Linked DNA regions of Homo sapiens: region 1 is linked to region 2. Evidence: fine-mapped expression QTL. A gene starts in region 2. The other region holds a variant in brackets. All regions are shown on one strand. Distances are between the middles of the regions. Region 1 overlaps DOCK1 (dedicator of cytokinesis 1). Region 2 holds the start of DOCK1 (dedicator of cytokinesis 1).

Region 1 (5,369 bases), 37 kb before region 2:
TGGCACTCCTTATCCTCCTAATATTCTCAAACCCACTGGCTCCTCCCCACCCCCACCACCATCAACCCCACTCAGGCCCCATCACCTCCCCTGCACGGCTGCCATGCCTCCCCATCACCTGTCTCCTCTCCTTCCCGTTCTTCAAACCACTGCCCATGAACTCTTCCTGCAACAAAATCTGATATAGCTCTGGACCCTTCAAGAATCATCCACTCTGAACCTTTCAATCACCAGCCACTGCTCTGAGCATTAAGTCCAAATTCCTCCAGACAGCTTGGGACGACCCTGCTTGGCACCCAGCCTCGCCTCGACTCACCCAGACTGAACTTCAGTGGTCTGTGCACTCTTGCACCTCAGGGCCCTCAGCTAAACTGATGCTACTCCTTCCTACCCCTCTTCATCTCATTAACTCATATCTAATCTCTTCAAAGCACCTATTTAAAAAGCCGCTTCTTCCAGGAAGCCTCCCTTGGTAGTCCTTTCTCCCTCCTACCATTCACAGCTGTCTTGTGGCTGCCTACTTACTTGCCAATCCCCCATATCTACTTCAGTCCCTATTGTATCCCAGGGCCAAGCACACAGCAGTCATTTTGCAGGCACAGGGTAAATATTTACTGAATGCATGAATTTAGCCGAAATCCACTGAATGATTGCATTAACTTAAATAGCATTCAGTAGGTGCTTACATACACTTACTCGTTTAACCTCAATCTTATGCTACAACCACTATTACTACTCCCATTTAACAGAAAGGCTGCACACAGAGATTAACTTGCCTCAGGTCAACCAGTGCTAGGTCTAGGATCTGATCCCAAGCAGTTTGGTTCCAGCACCTACTCTCTTGACCTCAGAAAAATTAGCTTGCCAAAGAAAGTAAGGCAGTCAGGTTCAAAGAAGGTCTTAAACCTTTCATTTGTTTGTTTTTATTTTTTGAGATGGAGTCTCTCTCTGTCACCCAGGCTGGAGTGCAGTGGCACAATCTCTGCTCACTGCAGTCTCCGCCTCCCACGTTCAAATGATTCTCCTGCCTCTGCCTCAGTGTAGCTGGGATTACAGGCACACACCAACATATCTGGCTTTTTTTTTTTTTGGTAGAGATAGGATTTCACCATGTTGGCCAGGCTGGTCTTGAACTCCTGACCTCAAATGATTCACCAGCCTCAGCCTCCCAAAGTGCTGAGATTACAGGCGTGAGCCACCACGTCCGGCCTATTTGTTTGTTTTTAATGATCATTTCTAGATGAACAAGAAAAAGAAATCAATATATTTTAGGATAGTAACTAAAATCACAAAAGGTCAGGAAAACTAAAAGAATTTATACTGAGGTCATGAAACATGTAATCTAGTTAAGCATTTTCTGGAAAGAAACATCTTGCAAATAAACGCCCATCCAGAGGAATCATCAGCTATCCCCTACTTTCCATTAGAAGCTTCCCAACAGGACAGATCATGCTTATCTTTTAATGAATTTGTGTAACATTGAGTGTATTTACAGTAAAAATAAACGGGATAATGGAACTCTGCTGCATCGCAGATCCCAGGGTCCCAGATGACGGCTCCCTCGGGGCTGGCTCGGCTCCCTCGGGGCTGGCTCGTTCCATTAAGGAAACTTCCTGCAAATCAGAAGGAAGGAGCAGCTCCATCCATTCCTCTCGCATTCTAACGCTTGTAGGTCTTCACGATTTATTCTACTGTTCTACCTGCCAACCTGCTCCCAAATGAATCCAGTGCACAGCTTCCACCTGAAACTAAAAGTGAGCTTCACCCCACTCGAAAAGAAACCTAGAAGAAGGAATGAACCCATCTCCTCCTTGAGCTCATTCCTCAGGACTCACAAAACACTCAGAAAATGAGCAAATATCGGCTGGGCGCGGTGGCTCACACCTATAATCCCAGCACTTCGGGAGGCCGAGGCAGGTGAATCACGAGGTCAGGAGATCGAGACCATCCTGGCTAACATGGTGAAACCCTGTCTCTACTAAAAGTACAAAAAATTAGCCGGGCGTGGTGGCGGGCGCCTGTAGTCCCGCTACTCGGGAGGCTGAGGCAGGAGAATGGTGTGAAACCGGGAGGCAGAGCTTGCAGTGAGCCGAGATCGTGCCACTGCACTCCAGCCTGGGCGACAGAGCGAGACTCCGTCTCAAAAAAAAAAGAAAAAGAGCAAATATCAGAGTGACAACACACATCCGACACCCTCTTGGCTCTCCCCTCCTCATGATGTGACTTTAGAATCCTTTAAACAAAGCAGCTTAAAAGAGAATAATTGGCAAAATTATCTTCCCATGGGACTTTTAAGTCTGAGCACCTCACCTGCAAAGGCGGGCTGAGAAAGGCAAAGTTGTCTAGGAAAGGTGATTATACACTACTCAGACAGGTACAATCCACAAATGCTGTTTTTTTTGTTTTGTTTTGTTTTGTTTTGTCTGTTTTGAGATGGAGTCTCGCACTGTCGCCCAGGCTGGAGTGCAGTGGCACGATCTCGGCTCACTGCAAGCTCCGCCTCCCGGGTTCACGCCATTCTCCTGCCTCAGCCTCCCGAGTAGCGGGACTACAGGCACCCGCCACCACGCCTGGCTAATTTTTTGTACTTTTAGTAGAGACAGGGTTTCACCGTGTTAGCCAGGATGGTCTCGATCTCCTGACCTCGTGATCCGCC[C/T]GCCTTGGCCTCCCACAGTGCTGGGATTACAGGCATGAGCCACTGTGCCCGGCCCACAGATGCTGTTTAACTGCGGTTTTGAAGATGTTTTTGTTGTTGGATTGGTTTTACTTTTGTGTTTTAAAAGACTAAAGTTAAAACTAGCACCATGAAATGAAATATTTCATCAGAATTTAGGTAATGCAATCTATCCATAAAACAATCTTTTTAAACTGGTTTTTAGAGGTTTCTTTACACAGTATAGCATCTCCTCTCATAACCACAGGATACATCCCATCAAACTTACTCTTGTCCCCTGTGTCCACTAGACACCAATAAAAACAAGGAAGCTACCAACACTTTCTGGGAGTTTAAACAGCTGAAATGCCCTCTGGTAACACTGCACGGCAGATAAACCAACCGAGCACATTTTATGAAGAATGTCATCCTCCCAGACAATGACCAAACAGATGACTCTGGACCAGCAGGTCCCTGAAATATTGTGATGGAAAAATGTGAATGTACAGATGATAATTACTTTGGTTGTTTATCCATCTGTTTGCTTTCTCATATATATGGATTCATGACTACATTTAATCATCCTCCGAAGAATCATCTTGGTGAGGTTACAGGGCAATATAATAGAGTCACTGTAATTCAATAGACGCTTTTGATTTCCCTGATAAGATAGAGTTAGCAATTACTGTTTGCTATCACAACTCCAGTTCTTGTCAATACAAGTCAAATTTTACTTGATAAACTAATTACACAAACCCTGGCCAACTACAAAAAAAGGCACTCTGACTTATTTGAACTGAGAGTTTGTTTACTAAAATAGGTACTTTGGGCCAGGCGCAGTGGCTCACGCCTATAATCCCAGCACTTTGGGAGGCTGAGGTGGGTGGATCACTTGAGGTCAGGAGTTCGAGACTAGCCTGGCCAACATGGTGAAACTCCGTCTCTACTAAAAATACAAAAATTAGCCGGGCATGGTGGCAGGCGCCTGTAATCCCAGGTACTTGGGAGGCTGAGGCAGGAGAATCATTTGAACCCGGGAGGCAGAGGTTGCAGTGAGCCGAGATTATACCACTACACTCCAGCCTGGGTGACAGAGACCCTGTCTCCACAAAATAAATAAAACACATACTCTGAATATTGAGTACGAAGTGCTGCAGACTCCTGTCATCTAATATGGAAAACCACCTGGTTTGAAAGAATAAACAGAATGGTTTGCATGGATGTCTTCCTTCTAGAACAGTTTTATTCCAAATTATTCTCAATCAACTCCCAACTGCAAATTAAACCAAAATTACAAAGCAAGGCAAATCACTGAATCCCCAAATACTTTGATTCTGCCATCATCCCTGTAAACCGTGATTAATTCACAGGGCAAATTTCTTATCCATTACTGAGACTACAAAGAAATAACCAGATTAGAGGCAAAAACATCATTTGTGAAAAACAATTCTCAAAGGTTGGAAAGGCACTAGAGAGGAGTTGCACCCTTCTCCTTCTTGCTTCTCCTCCAAATCTGTCTTACCCTAGACTCTCCCAATGCCAGCCCCAACTCAGGGCTAAATGCAGCCACCAGCTCATGGAGGCTCCTATTCAGGCAACAAGGTAGGCGTGGCCTTCAAAGGACAAAGGAAGCAGTCTCCTTCATTGGGGACATGCGTCACACTTACAGCTGCCGAGAGAGGGACCCAAATACAGAAAGGCCTAATAATCTGACTTCTGGGATTAACAAACACCAAACCAAAGCATCCAAAGGAATGAAAGCAGCAGCACTAATCCACTTCCCTGAACTACAGCCCATCACAGAACACTGGTCTCGTGACGACTCGGACTCATCTGGACTGAAGAGTTTGTTTTCTAAAATAGGTATTTTGGGTCAGGCGCGGTGGCTCACGCCTGTAATCCCAGCACTCTGGGAGGCCGAGGCAGGAGGATCACCTGAGGTGAGTGATTACTAAATCAAGCTGCTACAAACGAGAGAAAAATTAAAAGATAACTTTAAGTTAAAGTAAAAACACTGATGTCCCTTAACCTACCAGCCTAAGAAATACAGCAAAAGTAAACAGGTACATGCAGAAATAGAAAAATTCATCCTAGAATTTAGATGAAATCTCAAAGGACCCTGAATAGCCAAAACAATCTTGAAAAAGAACAAAGCTAGCGGACTTGCACTTCCTGATTTCAAAATTTAGTACAAAGCTACTGCTATGGTCTGATGTCCCCCAGAATTCATGTGTTGAAACTCAATAGCCAATGTCATCGTTTTAAATGGTGGGACTTTGAGGGGTGACTAAATCAGGAGGATGAAACCTTCACGGATGGAATCAGGCCCCTTATAGAAGAGCTTAAGGAAGGGGGTTCCTTCCCTTGCATCCCTTCTGCCATGTGAGGGCACAGTGTTCATCCCTTCCGGTGTTCATCCCCTCCTGTGTTCATCCCCTCCGGTGCTCGTCCCCTCCGGTGTTCGTCCCCCCCCCGGTGTTCATCCCCCCACCGTGTTCATCCCTTCAGGTGTTCATCCCCTCCGGTGTTCGTCCCCTCCGGTGCTCATCCCCCCCGGTGTTTGTCCCCCCAGGTGTTCGCCCCCCCAGTGTTCGTCCCCCCGTGTTCATCCTTTCAGGTGTTCGTCCCCTCCTGTGTTCGTCCCCTCCTGTGTTCATCCCCTCCAGTGCTCATCCCCTCTGGTGTTCATCCCCTCCTGTGTTCGTCCCCTCCTGTG
Region 2 (5,369 bases):
ACACCCAGGAGGCACCACTTACTGGTGATGTGACCTCAGGCAAGCAATCCACCTCTTCCTTGCCTCTGTAGAATGGGAGCAGTGATGGCCCCCACTGCACCCCGATGGCCCCCACTACACCCCCAATGGCCACTACTGCACCCTGGCCATGGGCACCTAAGTTGCTTCCTCAGCAGGGCCAGGGCTATGGGATGCCTGCTCCTCTGCCAGCCTCCTGCCTCTCCTGCCTATCCACCTCTTCCTCTCTCTCTGCGTGTGCTGGTGCTAGGTTCCCTGGGAGTCAGTCCTCAGCTCTCTCCTCTACACACTACCCCCGCAGGGACCCCCACTGTCGCCACAACCCAAGCATTCTCAGGTGGAATATCCACCCCGAACCTCTCGCCTCTGATGCAGACTGAAGGCCCGTGCCAAGTGCCCCAGACTGAATCCATTAGGTGGTGCACAGGGTGCAGGTTACACACTGAGTCTGCAGTCAGATGAGCTCTCCTGCACTTTTGTGAATGTGTCTGGGCCTCAGTTTCCTCATCTGCAAAATGGGGAGATGGGGAGGAAGCTCAGTCATAATGGTCCTGAAGCAAGGAGGCCCCCTATGCCTCCCAGCATGTGGAACAAGCTAAGTGCAGGCCCGGTAGGACCCAGGGCTGTCCCAGGACTGTCCCCGTGACCACTGTCCAGCTGGCTCCGTGGTCAGGGCATACTGTAAGTCATTGACAGCAGAGAGAAGCAACTGTTCACAGAAAGGAGAGCGCTCCGGGGACAAGGGCTGCCAGGGCGCTTCCCAAAAGTCAGAGAGCCAGGATTCGAACCACACCAGCAGAGGGTCGGGCAGGTCCAGCACGGGCCAGGCACAGAATGGGCGCGGGGCTGCTGCTGAGACGGTGCCCTTGGAGGACACAGCCTGGGCTGTGGGAGGCGAGACCACCAAAGGTCTTCCCAGTCGGGTCGAGTGGCCTGGATGAGGCAGGCGGTCAAGGATGTCTGTGGATGGTGGGACGGGGAATAGCAAGCCCGAAAACCAACTGGGAAGATCCCGGACCCGGGAGAGCAGGAGAGTAGCCACGGCCCAGTCCCGACACCAGGCGCGCAGATCACGAAGAGGTGGGCGTCCGCAGGCCTCGGCGACCGGCTGCGGGTCCCCGGGGCGCAAGGATGCGGGTCCCACGCGGACGGGCCCGTCTATTCAGCCGCAAGGGAAAGCCTCCCTCTCAGGAATGCGCACTCGGGTCCGAAATGTAAACTTGCAACCCGACTCCTTCCATCCCCCCTCGGAAGCGACAAAGAGCCGCGGAGCAAAAACAGGCCCCCGCTCTCCCGGAAGGGTCTCCAGGCCTGGGGCCACTGGGGCGCTCGGCCGCTCGCCTTCTCTCCAAGGTCCCACACGGTCCCCAGCGAGACCGCCGAGGGGCAAGGGGCGCTGGCCACCCAGGTCGCGCCCCCTCCTCCCCGCCGGGAAAGGGCGGAATTATCCGCTGGGACCGCGCCGACCTGAGCCCGCCCACCCAGAGCCCGGACGCGGGACGCAAGTTCATCCAAGAAGCAGAAGCCGCCGCGAGACAGTGACCCCTGGGCTTCCCTGACGGGCCCAGCCGCGCAGATAGCAGCGGCCGGGGCCGGGGAGTTGGGGGTAGCCCGGGGGGCTCCACGGCAGAGGTCCAGAGGAGCGGGCGTCGGAGGGGACACCCTAGGGAGGGACGCGCCCGCCCCCATTCCCACCCCACCCCCTCGTGTTCCCGACCCGCATCCCCGGGGCTGGAGCTGACGCCGCCGGGGGCGCGGGGCGGCCGGGGTCGCCGGGCATTGCGAGCGGGGCGGCGGCGCGGGCGCGGGCGGAAGCGCCTCTCCCCGGCCCGGCGGCCGCTCGGGGCGGCGGCAACAGGCGCCCGGCACACCCGCCCCGCCGGAGCCTGGGCTTGGGGCGAGAGGCGCGGCGGCGGCGGCGCTGCTCACCCACGCCGTACTTCTCCTCGCGCTTGGTGGGCACCCAGCGCGTCATGGCGCCGCCGGAGCCGCCGCGGGTCGGGCAGGAAACTCCGCGTCTAGGCCGCCATTTTCCATTCCTTTCGAGCCGCGACAGGATGGGGAGGAAAAAGTTTGCGGCGGAGGCGGCGTCATGTGGGACGGGGCGGGCGGAGCGTCGCGGGCCGGATGGGAAAGGCCGGGAGCGCCGGCGGGAGGCGGGACGGCCGCGGGCTCTGCGCCCGCCCTCGGCGCGGACCCTGGGCCCCGACCCCGCGGTCGCCGGGGCTCCCCTTCCTCTGTCCCAGTGCGCCCAGCCCCGCGCTCCGCACCCGGGCACCCCCGCGGGGTTCTCCTGAGTTCCTGGAGCTCCCGGGGCTGGCGCTCACGCCGTGAGAGGGGTGCGCCCTTAGGGGGGCGGGACGGACGGGGGGTTTCTACGGGAGGTAGGAAACGGGCGGCTTGCAAGGCGCGGGCTTAGGCCGGAGCCTGGTGGTGCGAGGTCCCCAGCTCGGATTTCTCCCTGGTGGAGAGTCCCGGAGCAGAACAAACCAGCAGAGGCTCTGGAAAGGGTCCTCCTGAGCACGTGGCTCATTCATTCATTCGACAAACGTTACCTGAGCGCCTGCCCACTCATTGCCCGAGTGTGCTGGGAGCGCCGCACCAACTGCCTGGTAGGTGGGAGAAGGGACACGTCAGGTAACAAACAGCACAGGTAAGTGCCGGCCACTCAAATGGGGTGGAAAGAGGTGGCACAGCGCTGCCGAGGGAGTGCGTTCCAGACAGGTGACCTCTTGCTTGGGTGCTGAATGAGTGGAGTTTTCCAGAGAGACCAAGAGGAAGCAGCCGCAGAAACCTCAGCCCAGCTGGGCTTGCAGAAGCTAATGCTAGAATAGTTGTGGGACTCAGGATCTGCTGAAGTCGGGGGAAGAGAGAAGTAGGGAAAGGAAAGCCCAGGCCACGCGTGGGGCTCAGGAACGGCATCCTCGCCCGAGGTGGGAGTTCTTCTCAGGCCCTGGTGTTTCCCATGACAGTAAAAGGTGGGGGCTTCAGATTTCTCCAAGGGAAAAGTTAAAGCAACACACACCTATTTATTTTTACTGTAATTTCAGAAAAGAGAGGTTAAAACCAAGACATGGACAAAGCCTCCGAATGAAGGCAGCCCTTTAAATGGAATAAATTTGGTTTCATGGCACATTAATGGGGTGTCTTCTCTCCGAAGACACAGAGACAACTACAGTAGGTCTGGGGGCCGTCAGGGATTGGAGGAACGAAGGTAAGAAAAGGAAGAAGGTAAGAAAAAGAGGTCCCTACCTCTGTGAGGTAGGGACAGTGCTGAACAGCAGGGCTGGGAGAGCCCACAGGGAGGTGGCCAGGATGGCCACAGGGCCTGGGGAGGACCAGGTGGGGCACCATCCTGCGGTAGAGAATGCCCGTCACCTGCCCTAGGGGCCACCCAGAATGCAGATTAAATAAGTATTTGGGAATGGCACAGGAGCTTTTCCATTTTCGTGGGTTAGAGGAAAGCTGCTGCGTTCAAGAGGATAACGTGGGACCTGAGCATTCTGGTAAGTCAACCCCACATTCATGGAAAGCCACGGGCTCTGTTTTACTGATAAGGAACTGAAGTCCCACAGAGGAAGTGGCCAGGCTCACTCACACACAGCATGCACTTGAAGCTTTCTGTGGAAATCAGAAACCTCCGGGGCTCAGGCGCTGTAGTGGTGGCCTGGTGACTCTGACCCCTTGAAGGAGAAGCATCTGTGAAGGTGCTGTCCAGGACAAGTAGGGTGCTCTACGGTAAAGGACATGGTGGCCTGACCTGCTCCAGAGCAGGGAGGCCTCCCTTGAGGAAATAAGATAAACCCAGACTTTAAGGATAAGCAGAAACCAGCTAGGTGAACTGGAGTGGGAACAGCACGTGAAAAGGCCCTGGTTTAGGAAGGAGCACCACTCCTTCAGAGCACAGAAAGGCCAGGATGGCCGAAGCATAGGGAACAACAGGAAAGTGACATAAATTGAGGCTGCAGAGGTAGAAGAAGGGCCTTATTGGTCGTGCTAGGAATTTGGAATTCTGCAAAGAAGCCTGGGAAACAGATTTTGGTGACACTCGCCTTCTCTTTAATGTGCAGTTTCAGTTCTGTTGGTGTGATTCTGCATTGGAGATGGCGTGCTGTAACGAATGGCCAGGAGCTTAAGAGTCATGCAGACTTGGGAGGCCTGGCCTTGCCACGCCCAGCTGCATGGCCATCCTCCTCCTGTTTCTGGCCGTTCTGTTTCTAAACCTTGGGGTTCTGATATTCCTACATGTAAACTAGGGGCTGTAATAGGAATCTCACAGGTGAGTCTTAGGATTATAAGAGGAGACATGACTGCATGTGTAAGACATCATAATGATGTGCTTCCTCATCTGACCCTACCTCCAGGTTCTTTGATAACCTCATGGTTCCCATTTTCTAGAACAGTTGCCACTTGCACTCAGATAAAGGTGACTCACTGAATGCATAAATAAGTGTAGTGCCGGATTTGCATACTTTTGGTAGACTGTCATATAATAAATTTATAAATCAGAATTTTAAAACTCCAGGTGGGGCCGGGCACAGTGGCCCATGCTTGTAATCCCAGCCAGCATTTTGGGAGGCTGAGGCAGGCAGATCACTTGAGGTCAGGAGCTCGAGGTCAGCCTGGCCAACCAGGGTTTTAGTAGAAACCCTGTCTGTACTAAAAATACAAAAATTAGCTGGGCGTGGGTGCGCATACCTGTAGTCCCAGCTACTCAGGAGGCTGAGGCAGGAGAATTGTTTGAACCCAGGAGGTGGAGATTGCAGTGAAGCAAGATCGCACCGCTGCACTCCTGCCTGGGTGACAGAGTGAGACTCCATCTCAAAAACAAACAAAACAAAACTCCAGGTGGACCACGGGCCAGGTGGTTGTAGCTTCAGTCCCTTGATTGCAACATGTGCCCAAGTTTGGCTGAGATGTACCTGTAGCCACGGTCCTTGAAGCCCTGAGAAGATTTGTCAGCATCCCCACGGTGCTCCAGCAGTGCTCTCATCTTGTGGCTCTAAATCGAGTCCATGGCCCTCTCTCACTGTCCTATGGTTGCATAAGCTCAGAACTGGCTTCGTCTCCAATTCCAGGAGCCCTGGAGGTTGTGGCCTGTTGACATTTTTACCTCCTGAGTCAATGTGGCTGGGCCACAGGTCTCAGTTGCCCTCCCAGGCATCTTGCAGGACTTGGATCTGTGCCAAGCTTGTGGGTGTGAACAAGCCCAAGAATGCTGAGGCTCTCAGTTGCTCAGTGCTGCCCATCACTGGGATTTCAGAGTAGTGACCCCCCTCCTCCAAGATACAACAGAATCTTGCTTTGGGGCCATGAAGAACACAATCAATATTACAGTTTTAAATCTTGAA

The links. PIP is the estimated chance that this variant, and not a neighbour inherited with it, causes the effect.
Region 1: its variant is fine-mapped to the expression of DOCK1 in unexposed skin (GTEx, PIP 0.98).

The regions. Positions count from the first base shown.
Region 1 is chr10:126,938,816-126,944,184 of GRCh38, reverse strand. The region is part of intron 1 of DOCK1 (dedicator of cytokinesis 1); the gene reads right to left. Among named protein-coding and RNA genes, the nearest start is that of DOCK1, 36 kb to the right of the region's middle. The variant C/T (reference allele first, on the strand shown) is at 2,657.
Region 2 is chr10:126,902,142-126,907,510 of GRCh38, reverse strand. DOCK1 (dedicator of cytokinesis 1) reads right to left here and starts at 2,083. Exons shown (of 52, transcript NM_001290223.2): 1 at 1,948-2,083. The coding sequence starts at 1,993. LOC105378550 (a long non-coding RNA gene) reads left to right here and starts at 2,133. Exons shown (of 2, transcript XR_946449.3): 1 at 2,133-2,951; 2 at 3,069-5,369. It overlaps LOC124900289 (a long non-coding RNA gene), which reads right to left and starts at 1,780. Exons shown (of 2, transcript XR_007062336.1): 1 at 1-1,780. RefSeq lists an enhancer at 314-1,062.